4 linked regions of the Homo sapiens genome follow. The protein of the gene in region 4 interacts with the protein of the main gene of each other region in a biochemical or structural test. Each region holds a gene or a part of one and is shown on either strand. Other genes may lie near its edges.

What was found. Proteins that work in one complex are often made in the same cells at the same time.
Region 1: the proteins of LDB3 (region 4) and PLXNB1 interact in a test that uses a peptide from one of them, tested with the Homo sapiens proteins (one large-scale study listed by IntAct).
Region 2: the proteins of LDB3 (region 4) and EVI5 interact in a test that uses a peptide from one of them, tested with the Homo sapiens proteins (one large-scale study listed by IntAct).
Region 3: the proteins of LDB3 (region 4) and OR8G1 interact in a test that uses a peptide from one of them, tested with the Homo sapiens proteins (one large-scale study listed by IntAct).

What each region holds. Positions count from the first base shown.
Region 1 is NC_000003.12:48,426,863-48,432,345, forward strand, and holds the start of PLXNB1 (plexin-B1 precursor), read right to left. Parts: upstream 3,225-5,483; 5' UTR 3,146-3,224; exon of another isoform or gene 2,891-3,145; intron 2,483-2,890; exon of another isoform or gene 1-2,482. UniProt on the Homo sapiens protein: Receptor for SEMA4D. Plays a role in GABAergic synapse development. Mediates SEMA4A- and SEMA4D-dependent inhibitory synapse development. Plays a role in RHOA activation and subsequent changes of the actin cytoskeleton.
Region 2 is NC_000001.11:92,701,185-92,706,090, forward strand, and holds part of EVI5 (ecotropic viral integration site 5 protein homolog), read right to left. Parts: intron 3,561-4,906; coding exon 3,371-3,560; intron 2,738-3,370; coding exon of another isoform or gene 2,657-2,737; intron 2,649-2,656; exon of another isoform or gene 2,553-2,648; intron 2,436-2,552; coding exon 2,211-2,435; intron 1,032-2,210; coding exon 957-1,031; intron 1-956. UniProt on the Homo sapiens protein: Functions as a regulator of cell cycle progression by stabilizing the FBXO5 protein and promoting cyclin-A accumulation during interphase. May play a role in cytokinesis.
Region 3 is NC_000011.10:124,243,113-124,248,018, reverse strand, and holds part of OR8G1 (olfactory receptor 8G1), read right to left. Parts: intron 219-4,906; 5' UTR 139-218; intron 1-138. UniProt on the Homo sapiens protein: Odorant receptor.
Region 4 is NC_000010.11:86,726,667-86,731,572, reverse strand, and holds part of LDB3 (LIM domain-binding protein 3), read right to left. Parts: intron 1-4,906. UniProt on the Homo sapiens protein: May function as an adapter in striated muscle to couple protein kinase C-mediated signaling via its LIM domains to the cytoskeleton.

The DNA of each region.
Region 1 (5,483 bases), on a different chromosome or scaffold from region 4:
CCCCACCTAGTTTCCAAGGGATGAGGAAAGAAAGTTTCTTCCCATGGGAAGACAGAGTCCACCTGAGGATGGGCAGAGGCCACCTCTTGCAAGGGGCTACTGTTCAATTCTCCTGCCACCGCATGCCAGGGATGGGCCTTGGGCACAGGGTCCCATAGTTAGACCAATACTCACTCCTACATGCTTACAAATATTTGCTCAGAGCCTACTGCGTGCCAAAGTTCTCCAGCCCTCAAGGGGCAGTAACAAAACCACTCCCCATATGTGAAATCAAAACTGCATTGATGCATGACAGAGCCTTGGGAGATGAAAAAATGGTTAAAAACAAAAACAAAAAAAAAACACTGGATGAGGAGACAACAGGAAGAAATGGGCGGGATCAGAACAGCTCCTGGCCAGGCCACTGAGGAGGTCGGCCGCTGACCCACTCCAGGGAAAGTGGTCAGGCTTCTGCCAGCAGTCTCCCTGTGAATCAGGACCTAGCACCCCTTGCCCCTCCACACATACCATGGGTGTCGGAAGGAGGACAGAAAGAAGAGCAGTGACTTTTTCTCCTCCATTTCAGGCACATGGATTTCACTTAATCTCTGCCACAGGCCACTGAGCAGCTCCCAGCCCCTCCAATCTAGCCTCCCAACTCCCAACTTCTCAGGACTTTCCTTGAGCAGAATTGAGTACACCCCTCCCCCAAGAGCCTCTGGGGCACCCCAGAGCGGGAGGGATAAAGGCCTACCCCTCCAGTCCACACCTCTCCCACCCGATCCATGCCAGTGCTCCCCCACACATGCCCTTCGTTCCTGCCAGCCTGAACTGCAGGCTGCTTGGCTCCTCCAACCGCTGCACAGGCTCTTGCCGCTGCCTGGAATGCCCACTCCCTCGCTATCCCATTAACTCCTACACCAACCATCCTCTCCCTGGGGAGCCTCCCCTGTCCTCCCAGGCTCCTGAGGAGGCCGCTGCATGCGGTGGACAGAATGGACACACCTAGCCACCACCCTGACAGGCACGGCCGCTCTGCCTCAGGCTTTCCGAGCCTCAGATTTCCTAGTTGTACAATGGGAGGCAGGATTGCTCTGACCAGTAAACATGAAACAGTGTGTGCCTGGCATTAGTGATGCCAACCAGGGTCACCTTTCTCCCTGTTCCACCCTCCTACTCTGGACTTGAAGCTCCTTGAAGGCAGGGAGTATGGCTTCTGATTCAGAGGCCCCAGCAACTTACACAGACTTCAGCACAGACCAGATGCTCCCTGTATGGTGAACGAACCCCCATTTCACACCCAAGAAAACCCAACAAGTAGGGGAGATAGGGGGCCCACAATCCCTCCAAGCCACTTGGTCTCTCAAAGGGAACACATTGGCCCCACTTTTATTAATGACCAGGCCAGGGCAGACTGAAAAGGCTGATCTAGAACCAGACCTCACATCCCCAACTTACACAGCCAGGATCTCCTGCCCATTCCCAATATCTGAGGCCCTGCTCAGACTCACAGCCAAAGCCTAACTCTGCCTGTGCCCAGTGCTCCCCCACACATGCCCTGGAGTCTCTTCTGGGGCCACCCTACTCTGAACCTTTTCAGGGGGCGCAAGACTGCCCAACTTCTGTCTGTAGAGCAAGCACCTCCCGGACCCCCGTGGAGCTGTCCTCGACAACAAAAGGGGCTCACAAACCCCGCCATTCCGCACCTGCAGAGGGGCCATAGGACAGCCCACATTTGCCTTGCCTGCCAGTTAGTGGGAAACCGGCCTTCCCGTTTCACCCTCCTGCTCAGCTCCCAGGGTTCACTACAGAGGTGAGTTATTCATTGACAGTGCAGTGGTGCCCGCTGCCCGCCCTGTTTTCTGTGTGTTGAGGAGGGGTGGGGAGATCCACCATTTACCAGGCACCTGCGATGACCCAAGGCGCTCATCGATCACCCACTTAATATGTCTGTGTGTGGAGAGGAGGGTCCCCCCCACCCGCCCGGGGGTCAGGAGGCTCGAGGTCCGCCTTTGTCAGTCCCACCGGGAGCAGCCAGAAAGGGCTGTTACTACTGAGGGGAAGCCCCGACCTCCCCACTCGGCTCGTCCTTGACCCTCCCCAACCCCCAGACCCCGAGGCGAGGACCCCATCACTGGCCCTGGGAGGGCGGGGAAGGGGCCGGCCGGTCCCCGGCGGCGACGGCGAGGAGGGGGCGCGGAGGAGCAGCTCCACCTCCTCAGTCTCCCAATCGCGTTCCAGGCGGAGTCGCCAGAGTTTCCCTTCGCGCGGAGAAGTGTGGTCCCAACTCTCAAAACCAAAGCCGCCCACCACTCACCCAGGCCGCCCCTGCCCGGCGGGATCGGGGCCCCGGCCCGTTCCACCTCGGGAGCCCCGTTCCTCGCCGCCCTGGCCCCGAGCCCCGCACTCACCACCCGGCCGGGCCCCGCGGGATGTGCGCGCCGAGGCGGGCGTCGGCCGCTCCGGGCTCGGGCTCCGCGCGCAGCGGCCTCTCCCCGGGTCTGGCGGAGCCGCAGCTGTTACCCGGAGACCGAGGGGCGGAAAACTGCGCCCGCTGCCCGCCCCTCCCGCGCGGCGCTGCCACCGCCGGGAACAAAGGAGACAAAGCCGCGTCGGCCGGGCTCGTCTCCGCTCCTTCCCCCTCGCCTGCCGGGCTGCCCTCCCCCCGCCCGCCGCCCGGGCCAGGCCGGAAGCAGCCCGGAGAGCCGGGCGCGCGGCCCCGAACCGCCCGGGACCCCGCATTCCAGCCCCGCGGGCTCCGCATCGGCCGAGGGCTGGGGACCCGACCCCTCCCGCACGGGGGAGGGCGGGGGCGGGCTGCACCGCGGCGGTCGCCATGGCAACGCGGGTCGCCCGGAGGGGTGAGGAGTGAACCCCGGGAGCCAGAGCCGCCCCGCCCCGTCGGCCTCACCTGCTCGCCTCCTTGGAACCGGAACTGGGAACTTTCCTGGTTGCCAGGAGCCGAGGCGGGGGGTCGCGCTCCGCACCCGCAGGTGCTGGTGGAACAGCGTCCCGGCCTCTTCCCGCCCGTCCAGAGCCGGGTAGCACCCGAGTCCCTCACCAGCCCGACCCGTTCTTCTGCCAGCGCCCGGCCTCGCCCCGCGCCCGGAGCTCCCTTTCCCTTCCTTACCCGGCTCCGGTGGTCATCCTCCCCAACTTTCTTTACCTGAACTCCAAGGCGCCTTGTTTCTCCCCTGCGCACCTGGCCCTGCCCACCGCCCCTGCTCACCGCCCCTGCTCCCACTACTCCCCAACAGCCAATCCCTCCTTCCGGCCCCCACCTCTGGCTGTTTGAGAAGAGCATGGGCTTTGGACCTGGGCTTGCGCCATCAACTAAACCATGTAACCTGACACCAACCCCCCCCAGCCTATTTGCTCACCAGTAAGTGGGGGTGATCCCACCTCTAGCGGGGCTGTGAAGGCAGGGAACCTGGGCTGCAGAGGCGCACAAGCAAGGGCTCACTTCCTTCCTTTCTTCCCAGCCCAGGACCCAGACCTGGACCCACCCCAAGCTGAGAAGCGTTGGGCAAGTCTGGGCTCCCTCACTGGCAAACACCTGGGCCTTCTGCGGGAGGAAACGCTGGCAGAAAGGTTCTCTCCTGGGGACCATTTGTACCCTGTGCAGGGCCCTTCACACCCTGGCATGCCCACGGCTAACTCAGGACCAGAACCTGGCCCATCCTATTAGGACTTTTGGAGGACTTTGGCTCAAAGCCATTGGCACAGCTTCCTGGGAGGCAAAAACGTCACAGGCATCATCTGAAAGCCTCCAAGGCCTCCACAGGCTAGGGGAGCCTCAATCAGGAGGTTCAGGTCATCCACACTGGCTACTGCCCTAGAGCTAGAGACACCCTCTTCCCACCTCCCACCAGCTATCAAGGGTCTCCTGTCAGGTCACCCCTTTTCCTCCACTCCCACTTCCAGCACCTGAGTCCAGGTGCTTAGCACCTTGTCTGCACCAGCATAGCAATCCCTCCCTGGATCCCTCACCCTTAGCCTCTGACCTCAGACTGCCAACCTGGCACCCCGGGCCTGTGACATCATTCTGCACAACTCCCCCACACCCATCACCACCCCAGCCAGGACAGTCTGCCCCAGTCCCTCACCCACTTTGGCTTTCCTGCCTATGTAGCTTGTAGCAGCCCCCTCCACATGCACAGAATCCCTCCCTCCCCAAATCCATTCATCCAAGCACACACTTCAGGACCTATCTCACCCCAGAGGAAACTGGGACTTCCAAACCCCACAACCCCTTTCATCTGTACACAGATACGCTACCTCCTGCCCTACAAGGAATGTGAACACTCTAAGCACAGGGGTCTTTCCATCCCATGCCATTCTGGGGAGCCATTACTCGCCAAGGATAGATTGACTGAGGGACCAGGTGCTGAGAACCTGGGGTGGGGGGCATTTGGGCCATGCTCACTGCCCAAGACTGAACACAGGCTCCAAGAAGAAAGTATGCCTTATGGGAAACACTCCTGACTCCACAGGCTCTGAGAGCTCTGCACAGGCACCAGTGAACGAGTCCCCACCTGCGGCCCCCCTGCATATAGCTACCCTGCGCTCTCAAAGGGGAGTGGGTTCTCTGGAATGTGCCTGACTTCCAATACTCCAACACCAGGACTGAATACCAGCCCAAAGCTCCTGTTTACTCAGGGCACACAAGGCCACCCATGGCCATTTAGTCAAGGTCAAGGGTCACTGTTCCCCTCTGAAAAGAGATCATACATATGCCCCACTGCACCTCCCACCTGTGGGAGACCCCCCCCTCCCTATCACTGCCTCTCCATGCACACTCCCGGTGTCCTGAGCTCTGCCTATGCCTGTGGAAGATATCCCCGGGCTGTGTGGGGGTGTGCACCCAGCCCCCGTGGCACACCACTGCTGCCCAAAGCAATCTCTGTACCAGGGATCCAGACTGGCCACCAATCCCTATACTTATGTCCCCAGCAACATTTATCAACCATTCTCCCAATCTCCCTTCCCTGCTCTCCTCTGATCACTCCTCCAGTACTAGAACCAGGAAGTTCTCCCCCACATGGTAGAGAAAGTGATCCAGGAGATGGGAAGCAACCATGGTCACGAAATGAGTAGGCAGCAGGCTAGGTTCCACTCACTGGAACTCCCAGGCCATCTGACACCGGACAGTCAGGTAACTGGAGGAAATCCAAAATGAAAATCTAGGCCTCAGGAGTGCATCCATAACAGTTCAGAAAAGAGGACAGAGAGGAGATGAGAGAGGAACTAAAGGGGGTGACTACCCCAACTCCAGGCCCAACCTTCAAGTCTTGGATCTTGATTCTTAATGAAAAAAACTCAGTCTGATTGTTTTAAATAATAAAACTCAGGATATTTTAATTGGACATTAGCACAAAGTTTTGATAATTAATGTAAATGAACCTTGTCTACAAAGCGAAGCATGCCTGCTGGTGAGCCACACAGATACTGCTCCTTCAGATTGAGGTTGTACATGCCCCCAAAGGCTCGCTTCATTGCTACGA
Region 2 (4,906 bases), on a different chromosome or scaffold from region 4:
TTGGGAAGCTGAAGCAAAGCATCAGGAAACGGTTTCTGATTCCTACTTTGCTTTTATCTACCAGGATGTGTGATCTTGGGTAAGCCACTGAACTTTCACTGCCTATCTCCTATGAGCCAAACACCATGCTAGGCTTCTACATACATTACCTCAAATAACCCTCACAACTAATCTGAAAGTAGATAGTATTATCTTACTAAGGCTCAGAGAGAGGTTAAATAATCTAGCCTAAATTCATACAGCATGTGCAGAACTGAGTTGCAAAACCACCCTATATGACTCAAACCAAGTATCTCCATGATTCCTTTTCAGGACTAAAATCTGAGACTAAATAAAGAGTAAGATGGACTTAACATTTCAACAAAGCTGAAGAGATAATACTATATGCCATTTCCCTTCAAAGCTATGATTATCCTACCCCCGAATTCTGAAAACATTCCACCCAAACCCACTGCACACTCAATAACAAAGTTATATCCCTAGGGGGTAAAAGTGGCTGAGTACCACTATTTTAGGGCATGCAGTGAGGTATGCATAACAAGCTTTTAGCTCCATGATAAATTAAATTCTCTATAAATCTCTAAAGATGTTGTACAATATAAATAAGATTTTCTTACCAACACTTTAATTATTTCCTCCTTGGTTAGAAAAAGATTACTCTTCATTAAATGTTAACAAATAAGATTTTAAACTACTGTAGATTCAAGCTTTAGTAGAATATTACAGTAAAAATGTATCTATCATGAAGTTGAAATTTCATTTGGTGGTAAGATATTACTATGTTATTTTAACATGTTTAATCTTTTAAAATGCAAACTAAATATTTGTATTCAAATTATGCCTAGGAAAAAATACCCATATCCACTTACATTTAATAAAACAAAGATGCTTTTTAAACTCTCCAATCCAACTTAATAAAAAATTTCATTGGACATTTAATACTTATATTAACTTACCTGCATAAGCAACAATCCAACTATAAAAGCACTTCCTTGACAGTAACCAACCTCACGATCTACTAAAGAGTAAGCCTAAAAAGTAAAAAAAAGTTGTTCAAAATACATGGTAAGTTATACCTTCCTTCTCCAAAAAACCTAAAATTGGCAAGACAGACAGATTAAAAAACATTTATTTTTGAGAAAAGCTCTTGCTTGCTTGTTATAGATGTTATCCTATACATATTTAAAAAGCAAATGTTTTATTACATGAAATTTTATTTTGACAATTTCCCAATCCAAACTTGCTAGCTCTAAAGACATAAAATAAAATAAAATAAAATAAAATAAAATAAAATAAAATAAAGGAATTTGTAACAGGGCTTAAAAATCAAGTAAAATTGAGCTGGGCACAGTGGCTCATGCCTATAATCCCAGCACTTTGGGAGGCAGAGGCAGGCGGATCACCTGAGGCCAGGAGTTCGAGATCAGCCTGGCCAACATAGTGAAACCCTGTCTCTACTAAAAATACAAAAATTAGCTGGGCGTAGTGGCGGGCGCATGTAATCCCAGCTACTAGGGAGGCTGAGGCAGGAGAATTGCTTGAACCTGGGAGGTGGAGGTTGCAGTGAGCTGAGATCACACCGCTGCACTCCAGCCTGGGCAAAAAGAGTGCAACTCCATCTCAAAAAAAAAAAAAAAAATTCAAGTAAAATTTATATTGATGTATATAAAACTAGACTAGGTTTAAGGCAAAGGATTGGCGAAATTGAAATGATTTAACAAGAAGTCAGTATTTCAAAGAAGTAGCTAAAAGAAAAAGTAACTGTGGGAAGGGAAATGGCAATATTGAAGAAAAAATGACAATGGTACACCTTTCAAGGGCTAAGTGCTCTTAACAGTGCTGGCCATAGAAAGCAGAAAAATTTGCTCACTGTAGGAACACAGATATGATAGGAGAAACCCACATCCCAGGTTTTGAACTTCACAGATGGTGAATTATTCCTTTTCATGAGGATCCCTCTATGATATGTGACTTTTAAGCTATTCCATTTCCATCAACTAATGCTAAATAACGTAGTAAATGTTCTAACAAGTTCTCTATACTAGATAGTAATGTAGCATAAGAATTAAGGCAAAAATGATGCTAAAACCAATTTCACTGCCAAAGCAACTGATTATTGTGGTGGGAGGTCATGCTTCATCATGAAAAATGTATAATTTCAACCTTCCAGGAATTCATTTCATTTCAAAAAATGAATAAATAAAACTTACCTTCATTACATTAAATAAAACCTCCTGTCCAAGGCTATCTTTTTCCTTAAAAAAGTTGTGTTCAGGGTAAGTTCTAGCAATGTCCCTTCGGATCAATTTTTCACAAGGCGAGGTCATTTTCAGGAGTTCTGAATACTGATCCTTAATTGGCATACTTTGTGCACTGCATAAAAGTTGCCAAACTATTGCTCTAAAGTGATGGGGTATCCCTTTATGAACAAGTTCCTAAAAATAAAATAAAATTACAAAAATGAATTATTTAAGTGTCCTATCTTGCAAGCCAAGGAAGACTTATTAGGGGGTTGGAATGAAGTAGAAGACATCATTAAATTTGTAACTCACAAAGCTAGCTTTATAATAAGACTAGGGAACCCTGTAAGTCAAGGGTAAGATTGGGCCCTGGGTGTATCCTCTTCTGGTCAGGGGATTAATAATGATCATTTCACCTCAGTGTGTGACCTCTTAAGGTAATGGACTTGAAACCTGCAGAGCTGTGAATGATGGTACAGTACCCAACATTCAAAGGGCTGTTGAAGGCAAAAAAAAAAAAAAAAAGGAAAATACTGTTATTCAAGAATGCAGGATATCACAACTTCATTTCTGAATCAATAAAATGAGAGAATTTAATTTCTAAAACAATTTTCGGGCCGGGTGTAGTAGCTCACAACACTTGGAGAGGCGGAGGTAGGAAGACTGCTTGAGGCCAGGAGTTTGAGACCAGCCTGGGCAACAAAGCAAGACCCTATCTCTACAAAAAGGAAAATAAAAAATTAGCGAGGTGTGGTGACACACACCTGTAATCATAGCTACTCAGGAGCCTGAGGCAGGAGAACAGCTTAAGCCCAGAAATTCGAGGTTATAGTGAGCTATGACTGCATCACTGCACTCCAGCCTGAGCAACAAAGTGAGTCTTTATAAAATAATAATAAGTAAATAAAATAATTTTCAGTTATATATTTCTATATGATCAGGACCTCTGTAACAACTGATGTCTACAAATTAAAACTTTTAGGGGTACAAGTAAGTGAAAACAAATAAAGCAGACCTCTTTAATATATAGCTTGGAAGTTGTATTTGGGGTTTTTTTCCCAATCCTCTATTAAGTTATGTCTGACGCACTATGGAATAAGAATAAGAACTTCAACAAAGAACATGAATACCTTAACTTGCTTTTCCTTCTTTTTGCGTACATCTTCCCATTCATTAACAATTCTTCCCCAAAGAATCCAAGAATCTTCTTCAAGGTGACTGAGGTTGCTAGAGGCTGATGAACTCGACACAAGAGAAGAGCCACTGTTTCTTCTTGACCCATTTACAGATCTTAAAGACTTACTATCCGTTTCTAACAATCTAAAATATAATTAAAAACTGTTCAAGATCTAATCGGACAGTGATATTAGAAGAGGCATTGATGATACTTAGAGCTTTATTACTGCAATTTAACCATTGTTTTAAAATATAGTTTTAATAATATACATAATTTAAATAAATTTTGGTCACATCAATAAAATTACTGCTATATTTTTTTCACCTATTATAGCAGTTTGAAAATTTGAAAAAGCAAATTACGTTAAAAATTTTTGAGCTACTAGCCCCATTATAATTTCCCTTCGTCTCCATTAAAAATTCAAATTAGGGGAAATCTGATGAGAAAAGTATTTGGGTAGGCTTCAGGAAAAAAGAACTTATACTTGGAAGAGGTACAACAAATCTATGAAATAACCAATCCTAAAACGTTTACAATGTGTCTAAGGCTTAAAAGTAAGGCAGAGCCCCCAAAATTAACCAAATCACTTCTCTTTTTTCATTTTGCTTCACACATGCATAACCAATCTGCCCAAACAAAAAGTATTTATTTGGCCTATGCAGTGTTTGTGTAAAAACTGAGCTATTACTAATATACTAAAATTGGAGGATTTCACATATTTGCTTATATGCATTTATACTTTATTTATAATTCTAGATTCTCTTGAAAAATAAAAAGATAAGGCAAAACCGGTCCATATTCCTGCACAGTAAGAACAGGATATAGCTGCGTGGGAGCTTCTTCCTTCAAATGCAGAAGGACTTTAATCTGCTCACTTTCCATAATCCCTACAGTCTCCCCTAAAACTCAGGCCAGCTAACAGCTGCTATTTATTACTAGGTTTACACTGTTAAACTGGGACCTCCTCACTCATAAGGTCCCTGTTGAATTTTGAGCTTGCAACCCTGTGTTAGGCCTCCTCCTTATCTGTTGAAAGAAGGGTTAAGATAATTTCCAAGATCCAATCCATGACTAATCACTACATTAAGTCTTTTATTTATAAAAGGAAGGTGGAAAACGTAGCTCTATCACTATTTTATATAGCTACTACTCACTTCCAGTAATTCTTCAGGAAAAGTCATCTGCTTAGGCTACAACAAAAGCTCACAATACTAATTCATAAAATACAAAAGCTGAGAAAGAAAATAAACATATAGAGGTCAAATCCTATTTAACAGATTATACAACCACCCTTTGAGAGCCAGATTTATATGCTACTCATCTTTATATCCCTTAGAACATTTAGCTCAATGCAAAGTATATTATCAAAATGAAATAAAATCATAAGTCCAAATTTTAAAATTCCAAATTCCAGGTATGTCATTTTCAATAATACAACAGTATAAACTGAACAAACAAATTCTATCCTTACTGAAGGAAAATTTAATAT
Region 3 (4,906 bases), on a different chromosome or scaffold from region 4:
GTTGGTGTGAAGTAACTGGACTTATAAAATTTGGGGGAGGTGTAAAATTGTCCAACCACTTTGGAAAAGATGTTGGCAATTTAGTATAAATTTAAACAGACACTGTGCAATATAATAATTCTGCTCCTCAGTACTTACCCAAGAAAAATGTAAACGTTTGTCTACATGAAGATTTATACAAAAATGTTCATGACAGCCTTATTCATAAGAGCCCCAAACTGGAAAAAACCAAAACATTATCAACAGATGAATACATAAATGAGATGTAGTATACACCTATACTACAATTCTCTCTCCCTCTCTCTCTTCCTCTCTCTGTCTTATATGCACACACACATAAAATATTACTCTATATTTTAAAAGGAACATATCACAAATACATGCAATAACACAAATCTCAAAAACATATTTTTTGGAATAGATTGCCCCAAAATACCTTAAATGTTTGGAAGTATTCACCAGTATAGCAATCTAGACTTACGGTTTTCTCTCTGTGAGAATTTTTAGTAATGGATTGAATTTATTTAATAGATATTACTATTCAGATCTTATCTTTCTTCTCAACTTTCCTAAATTTAAATTTGAAAATGCTTGCCCACTTTGCAAATGATCAAATATATTGTATTCTTCTTCTTTTTTGGTAATTGTTTCTTTAACATCTAAACATAATTGTAGACTATGCAGCGATTTCTTTTTTCTGATTCCTAAAATCAGTAATTTATGGTTCCATTTTTGTCTCGATCAACCATTCTAGAAATTTTCCAATTGTATTACTCAAATAAAGTAAATTAACTTTTGGGTATGTTAATTTTATGAGTGATATATTTATTTCTACTTTAGTTGTTTCTAAAAACTTTATTATATTCTTTACACATTTCTTTAGTATGATTTCCTATTTTTTTCCCTAACCTCTTGAAGTGGAAGCTTGAATCAACAATTCAACTTTTATTCTTTTCTAATGTGTACATATAAGTTATAAATTTCCATCTGAACCCCACTTTAGCTGGATCTCGCAAGGTTTGGTATACAAAATTTATGATATTATTAAGTTTAAAATATTTTATAATTTTTGTTTCAGTTTTTTCATCGTTGCAAGGATTATACAGAAGTGAATTGTTATCATTACAGATGTGGGGCCTTTTTTTTTTTTTAGCTATTTCTTTCAAAAATACATCTATTGTAATTTCATTGTAATCAATGAATACAATCTGAATTATGTAAATCATTGCAAATTACTGAGACTTTATAGTACACCATATGGTCAATTTTTGTAAATATTTCAGTACATCTTAAAGAATATGTTGTCTGTCTTTGGAGGGTCATGTGATCTATATATTTCAATTATATCTAATGCATTAATTATGTTGTTTAGATTTTTCTTGTGCATAGTGTTTTTTTTCTCTTGTTTACTATTCCAATAGCTATTTAGTGAGGTATGTCAATGTCTCCCACTAAAATTTCTGATTTTTATACTTCTTCCTTTAATTGTTCAATCCTTGGATTTAACCCCTTATCAATTACGATTTAGTAATGTATCTTGCCTAAACTTTCCTTTTTCTGATAGTATATCATCACTGATAGTGTTTGCAAATCACATTATTCTCCATTCTCTTCCATTTGATCTTTAGGTATCTTTACATTAAAATGTATTTTTAAGAAGCTACAAATAAAATACAAATTTAAAAATAGTATCACGTAAAATAGCAATAAGCTAGCATCAAATACCTAGGAATAAAATTAACAAAATACATGCAATGTTTATAGAATGAAACTTCCAAATATTTCTGAGAGAAATTAAAGAAACTGGATCCCTCCCTTACACCTTATACAAAAATTAATTCAAGATGGATTAAAGACTTGAATGTTAGACATAAAACCATAAAAACCCTAGAAGAAAACCTAGGCATTACCATTCAGGACATAGGCATGGGCAAGGACTTCATGCCTAAAACACCAAAAGCAATGACAACAAAAGACAAAATTGACAAATGGGATCTAATTAAACTAAAGAGCTTCTGCACAGCAAAAGAAACTACCATCAGAGTGAACAGGCAACCTACAACATGGGAGAAAATTTTCGCAACCTACTCATCTGACAAAGGGCTAATATCCAGAATCTACAATGAACTCAAAACAAATTTACAAGAAAAAAACAAACAACCCCATCAAACAGTGGGTGAAGGACATGAACAGACACTTCTCAAAAGAAGACATTTATGCAGCCAAAAAACACATGAAAAAATGCTCACCATCACTGGCCATCAGAGAAATGCAAATCAAAACCACAATGAGATACCATCTCACACCAGTTAGAATGGCAATCATTAAAAAGTCAGGAAACAACAGGTGCTGGAGAGGATGTGGAGAAATAGGAACACTTTTACACTGTTGGTGGGACTGTAAACTAGTTCAACCCTTGTGGAAGTCAGTGTGGCCATTCCTCAGGGATCTAGAACTAGAAATACCATTTGACCCAGCCATCCCATTACTGGGTATATACCCAAAGACTATAAATCATGCTGCTATAAAGACACATGCACACGTATGTTTATTGCGGCACTATTCACAATAGCAAAGACTTGCAACCAGTCCAAATGTCCAACAATGATAGACTGGATTAAGAAAATGTGGCACATATACACCATGGAATACTATGCAGCCATAAAAAATGATGAGTTCATATCCTTTGTAGGGACATGGATGAAATTGGAAATCATCATTCTTAGTAAACTATCGCAAGAACAAAAAACCAAACACCGCATATTCTCACTCATAGGTGGGAATTGAACAATGAGAACACATGGACACAGGAAAGGGAACATCACACTTTGGAGACTGTAGTGGGGTGGGGGGAGGGGGGAGGGATAGCATTAGGAGATATACCTAATGCTAAATGACGAGTTAATGGGTCCAGCACACCAGCATGGCACATGTATACATATGTAACTAACCTGCACATTGTGCACATGTACCCTAAAACTTAAAGTATAATACTAATAATTTAAAAAAAAGAAATTCTTAATAAGGTTAAGAAGTTTTCCTATTCATAATTTAATGACTCAGTGTTGCAAAGATATTAATTCTCTCAAACTTATGGATAGACTCAACATAATACAGTTCCTGAACAGAACATCTAAACAGATCATCAATATGTTAAGACACCAACAAAGCACTGAAGGGATCATTGGCTACTTCTGGTAATCTCTTTAGATTTATGAAAAAAATTCAATTTAGCCCGATATGGGAGTAGAATTAAGATACTGGATCTCAATATGTTATATTGTACTCCAGAAACTCAAGGTGGTTATCATAAATGTGCTAGCCTTCACACTCCATACCATTTTCTCCTTGAATCTGTCTTCACTTAACATCCTTACATAGGATCAGTAATTGCCTTCCTTTCTAGGATGTAACTTGTTTCAAATCAGGGAACTTTTTTTGTCATAGCCAATGTTTCAGTTGCTCAATATAGATGTGCCATAGACATAGTTCATCTTTATTTTATACAGGCAGGTTGCACAGGCTCTCACAACATGCTCATGAGTAAGACCGAGTAACATGGCTCTGTTGCTTTACAGCCAGATGTAGGACATATTTAAACACAAACAGTGTTTATCAATTCAGGGATTTCCCAATATGGTTAATCATCAGAGTCACCTAGGGAGATCATAGTATTCATAAAAATTGATGAATGTAAAAATGTAAATATGATTATAATTAAAAATAAAAGTTCCTGAATCACCTCCCTATGTGCTTAGTCCTGTTCCCTAGAGACATCTTAGTCTTTGTAGAATAGTTCCAGTAAACATTTTGTTTCTAGTTCTTCTGAAGCTCTTCCCACCCTGCTTCTCCATCTCTCTCTCCCTCTCTCCATCCTTTCCTCATTCTCTCTCCATCTCTCTCTCCCTCTCTCCATCCTTTCCTCGTTCTCTCTCCATCTCTCTCTCCCTCTCCATCCTTTCCTCGTTCTCTCTCCATCTCTCTCTCCCTCTCTCCATCCTTTCCTTGTTCTCTCTCCATCTCTCTCTCCCTCTCTCCATCCTTTCCTCATTCTCTCTCTAGCTCTTTCTTTTGTTATTTTTTAATTTTTATTTTAAGTTCTGGGATACATGTGCAGAATGTGCAGGTTTGTTACATAGATATACATGTGCCATGGTGGTTTGCTGCACCTATTCTAGCTCGCTCTTTTATTCAGCCATCATTACTGAGAGACAAGGGGTCGAATACTGACCCGAAGCCAAAATGCATGAAAAGTAAAATGACACATTCCCTGCTTTAATAGAACTCTCAATCTAATTCTATCCTGTTAACAATGTTTTCAATAATTTAGTTAAGATTAAAATGGAAATGAGTGATCATTTAATGTACAGATAAAATAAAACTGGAAGAAATAGCCAATACAATGAATACGTGAATTGATTGTTTATACAACCCAACAGGACTGTGTTAAGAAGAAGAGAAATACTGTTGTAGAGACTTGATACTAAGTCTAATATTCACCATAATAAGGGATGATGTGTCAATTATTTCAATAACTGAAGTAAAGTTAGAGAGGCATGCAACTTTTGAATGGTTTCCCGAACGAATTCAGAGCTATTCTGTTATATATACATTTAAAAATGTATTTTCTATTATTTATGTGTCCTCATGTGATCACTATAGGATCAATATGAGGCTCTGAAAAATACTTTACATGTACACAAAATATAGTCTTCTGTTAATACAAGAACAAATAAAAAATATAGGGCTCCTGGTCTATTATGTTTACTCCTGCGTGTTAAAAATTGGGTATATATGACAGTAGCAATAAAAGGTCTGACCAAAGCCAGCTAAGTAGGGTTATAAATTATATAATATCAAAGAATAAGGTAAGGTCACTGAACATCATGAATATCAAAAGCATTTT
Region 4 (4,906 bases):
TTTCATGGTGTATTTTTCCAATGGAATGCCACCATTTAAAAAGAGAGATGGGCCAGGCATGGTGGCTCACGCCTGCAATCCCAGCATTTTGGAAGGCCGAGGCAGGAGGACCACGAGATCAGGAGTTTGAGATCAGCCTGACCAACATGGTGAAACCTTGTCTCTACTAAAAATACAAAAATTAGCCGGGTGTGGTGGTGCGCACTGGTAATCCCAGCTACTCAGGAGGCTGAGGCAGGAGAATCACTTGAACCCGGAAGACGGAGGTTTCAGTGAGCTGAGATCATGCCACTGTACCCAAGCCTGGGCGACAGAGCGAGATTCCGTCTCAAAAAAAAAAAAAAAAAGGTAGATATGGAAAAGTATGCAGAGAAATATACAAAAAAACAAAAGAGATGAAATTCTTTTTTTTTTTTTTGAGATGGAGTCTCACTCTGTCACCCAGGCTGGAGTGCAGTGGCGCGATCTCAGCTCACTGCAACCTCTGCCTCCCGGGTTCAAGCAATTCTCCTGCCTCAGCCTCCCTAGTAGCTGGGATTACAGGCGCCCACCACCATACTCAGCTAATTTTTTTTGTAGTTTAGTAGAGACAGGGTTTCACCATGTTGGCCAGGCTGGTTTCAAACTCCTGACCCCAAGCAATCCACCTGCTTTGGCCTCCCAAAGTGCTGGGATTACAGGCGTGAGCCACCACGCCCAGCCCAAGAGATGAAATTCTATATCCCCATGATGACAACATATAGTCTGAGGCTGGAGGCATCCCAGAAAGAAGAGAACTAATTAATATTTGTGGGGACTACCATGGACCAAGCAGGATGCCAGACACTCTATATACAGCAGCTCATTTAATTCTCATGAAAACCTTATAAGGTAGGTAAGCCTTTCTCCCACTTCACAGCTGAAAAAACTGGGGCTCAGAGGGCCCATACGTCTTCCTTAAGTCACAGACCTAGTAAGTTGTAGGCTGGGAATCTCTGTCCATGTCTGTAAGACTCCAGTTCTATGCTAATTTTTCCCCTACCCCATAGAAGAAAGGGACTGTGTTTACTTGAAATTGATCTGGGTTCATGGGTTTGTACAGATGTAGCCCTCTGAGTTTGCTGGACTACTAGTATGTAAGCTGGGCCCTGGGTTGGCAATATGCCAGTAGGTCAGAGTCTGCCAGGAAATCACATTGGCTGGCATGGGTCCCAGCTTAGGAGAGGGCAGTGAAGATCCCTGCTGGGGGGCAGAATTGGGAGCCATCTCCAGGACACTGACATCAAGAGGAGTGCACGTGGAGTCCCCACATACAGGTATCCCCCATGGAGACAGAGAAATCACCCCCTTGAGTTGAGCTTGGGGCAATATGCATGTATTCAGTCCAAGAGAGTTGGAGAGGAAAAGGGCACCACGCTAGCCCCATGTGCAAGGCTCTGATGGTCCAGTTGGGGACGTTATACCTAGGATCACACAGGGCTTCCAATTGGGTTCTGGGAGCCAATGAGCTGCAAAAGTGTTTGAAAACATCCCAGGTGGATGCAGTGATGCTGAGTATAACCAGGCTCGTGTGGAGGCCTCAAGCTGCTGGTGACAATTTAAAGACTATGCAAAAAGATGGACATCCAAGATCTAACTGGTGAGAATGGGCTTTAGGGAAGACAGAAAGGCATCTCTGGAATGAGTCAGCCTGTCAATGACTGCAGCTGTGGGTGGGAGACCATACCTGGACTGGGACAATGCTGGTTGCTTGTGAGAACTTTGGGATGAGTCAGGCTGGGGAGAGAAGGTGTCCAGGGACTGAAGACCAACAAATGAGAAAGGGACAGAACCTCAAAGATGGCTCATAGGTGAGATGGGGCTGAGGGTGGGAACCCTCATAAGGAGTTGTGCCCAGTGTCTTCTTGGTGCAAGGTGGCTTCATAGTGGAGGAGGCCTTCTGCCCACCCAGCACAGGGGGCAACAGGGATGGTCCAACCCCCAGGCTCTGTGGCTGGGTGACATCAGGGCCTGGCTATAAAAGGGTAGCGACCATGGACAGTGCTGACTGCAAGTCCCAGCAGAGTTAGGGTAATAAACTAGGCCAGCTGCAGCAGCCCCTAGGTCTGCCTACAAAAGTTATATTACTGCCCATCCCCTCCTGATACCCACACCAGTGGGGAAGGGCAAGACTTAGAGCAAAAGAGGGATGGGTAAGACATTTTTCCTCCACTAAGGTCGGACCCTTTCCATTGGAACTCAAGTGTCGACGCCAGACAGAAGCTTAACTTTCACCCTGACCCACAGTGCACTTCTCAGGCTCCCAGCCTTCACTTTATATGCTTTGGACTTGAGGGATACTGTCCTGTTCTACTTTTGAATTGCTCACATCTGTTGCTTTGTTCACCTTTCAAGATTCTAGATTCCGTCAGGGTAGAGACTTGTTCTGGAACACTCTTGTACTGCCCAAATGCCAGGAATATTTGGTAAACTGAGTTAGTCTAAAGAATGTGCTATCCTGAGATCTCACTGGTTAGAAAACAGCACATCAGCTGGGAGAGCTACCCCAGATCTTTCTCTTACTAATTTTTTGGAAGTTACAGGAAAATACATGCTCATCAAAAGTGATTTGGAAATATGAAGTGATAGAAAGAGGACCAAAAAAAAAAAAATCCCTCAAGTCCCTCAAAGTTTTCCAATCAAAAGATTTCTTCCTAATGTTAAGACCATGTTCCGGCTGGGTGTGGTGGCTCACACCTGTAATCCCAGCACTTTGGGAGGCCGAGGTGGGTGGCTCATGAGGTCAGGAGTTCAAGACCAGCCTGGCCAAGATGGTGAAACCCCGTCTCTACTAAAAATACAAAAATTAGCCAGGTGTGGTGGCAGGCGCCTATAATCCCAGCTACTCAGGAGCCTGAGGCAGAGAATTGCTTGAACCTGGGAGGTGGAGGTTGCAGTGAGCCAAGATCGCACCACTGCACTCCAGCCTGGCGACAGAGCAAGACTTTGTCTCAAAAAAAAAAAAAAACAAAAGAACCATGTTCCACTTTGCTATATGTTGACAGAGCAGTGAGTATCATGCAGGCTGGTTTGGAGGGAGACCTAACGATCTCCATGTTGATCCTCTAAAGGGCAGTGCTATGGGCCTCTCACAGGCTGGACTTCACTCTCTGGAACTTATTTGTAATATCAGCCTTAGCCACCCCAAGCTTTACGCCTTCTTCTGGTCTCTCTCTTGGACTTTTGCTGTTGTGACTCAGCTGAAATTGCGAGGCTTGCAGAAGCAGACCCACACTCACCTTTGCCACGATTCCCTCTGCATGTGACACAGACCTCTCATCAGCCTGCCCATGGAAAACAGGCCTTCTGTGCCACTGTCTTCCTGGACCTTCCCCAAGTCTCTTGGATCCTTCCAGAAGTTGGGTAACCAGATGTGCAGGCAGTGCCTCAGGACTAGACAAGCCATGGCTTGAATGTAAGGTTCAGAGACCCCTGTGCTGTGCCTGACACAGGGGAGCTATGACTCTGCAGGGGACAAACCCAAAGCCAGTATACTTACACCATTGTCTCTTTTTGGAGGGGATGTATTTAAAACACCCTAAAAGACAACTAGAGAATCTGTTCAAAGAGCTAGAAAATCAGAGTGTTAAGGGGTTGAATTGTATTCCACAAAATTCACGTGCAAGAAGGCAGAGTTTGCCGTGAGCTGTGATCACGCCATTGCACCCCAGCCTGGGCAACAAGAGGGAAACTCCATCTCAAAAAAAAAATAAAAAAAAAAAGGAGACCCACACAGAGACAGACACACTCAGAGGAGAATGTCATGTGAAGACACACACAGAGGGGAGACAGGCTTGTGACAATGGAGGCAGGGATTGGAGTTACACAGCTGCAAGCCAAGAAATGCCAAGGATTGCTAGCAACCGCTAGTAGCTCGGAGAGAGACTATGGCCTCCTGTCAGCACCTTGATTTAGGACTTCTGGCCTCCTGAACTGTGAAAGCATTCATTTCTGTTGTTTGAGCCATCAGTTTGCAGTAATTTGTCAAGACAGCCCTAGCAAACCGACACACAGAGTGAATACAGTGTGTCCCACAGATGGCGGGGTATGGAAGCGAAGTGTGGAACCAAAAGTATATGGCCGTAAACTTTATGACTAGGGTCATCCTATGTCAGAAGTCTATAAAAATTATTCAAGTAAAAACTGTACAGATATTTCATACATTTCCAAAATTTACCTTGAGACACTCTGGTTAAAAAAAAAATAGTAGAGGTGTCTTAATTTTCCCAAATCAGCCAGGCGTGGTGGCTCACGCCTGTATTCCCACAACTTGGGGAGGCCAAGGTGGGTGAATCACCTGAGGTCAGGAGTTTGAGACCAGTCTGGCCAACATGGTGAAATCCCCTCTCTACTAAAAATACACAAAATTAGCCAGGCATGGTGGCATGTGCCTGTAGTCCCAGCTACTCAGGAGGCTAAAGCAGAAGAATCGCTTGAACCCAGGAGGCAGAGGTTGCAATGAACCGAGATCATGCCACTGTACTCCAGCCTGGGCAACAAGAGCAGAAACTCTATCTCAAAAAAAAAAAAAAAAAAATTCTCAAATCGAGATTAGGCAATGACAGATTGACATTAGGGGGCTTTCTCAGGGATGACTGTTTCCTACCTCTCCTTCAGAGTCTAAATGTCTGTAGGCTCACCATCATGTGCCCACCCCAACCCAAAACCCTCAGAAGGAAAATGCCAGTCTCATACTAAAAGTGACCCGGCTGTTCAGCAGAAATAAGTAGCACACAGTTAATAGTTAATCCAGGGCTTATCTCCTGGCAGCTATATATCAGGAAAGGACCACTTAGGAAAATAAAATGGTACTCAGTCTTGCTTTCCAAAGGTGCTACCAAGAGAAACCCTATCTCAGCTTTTCATAGGATTAGTCAGCTCCAATCTA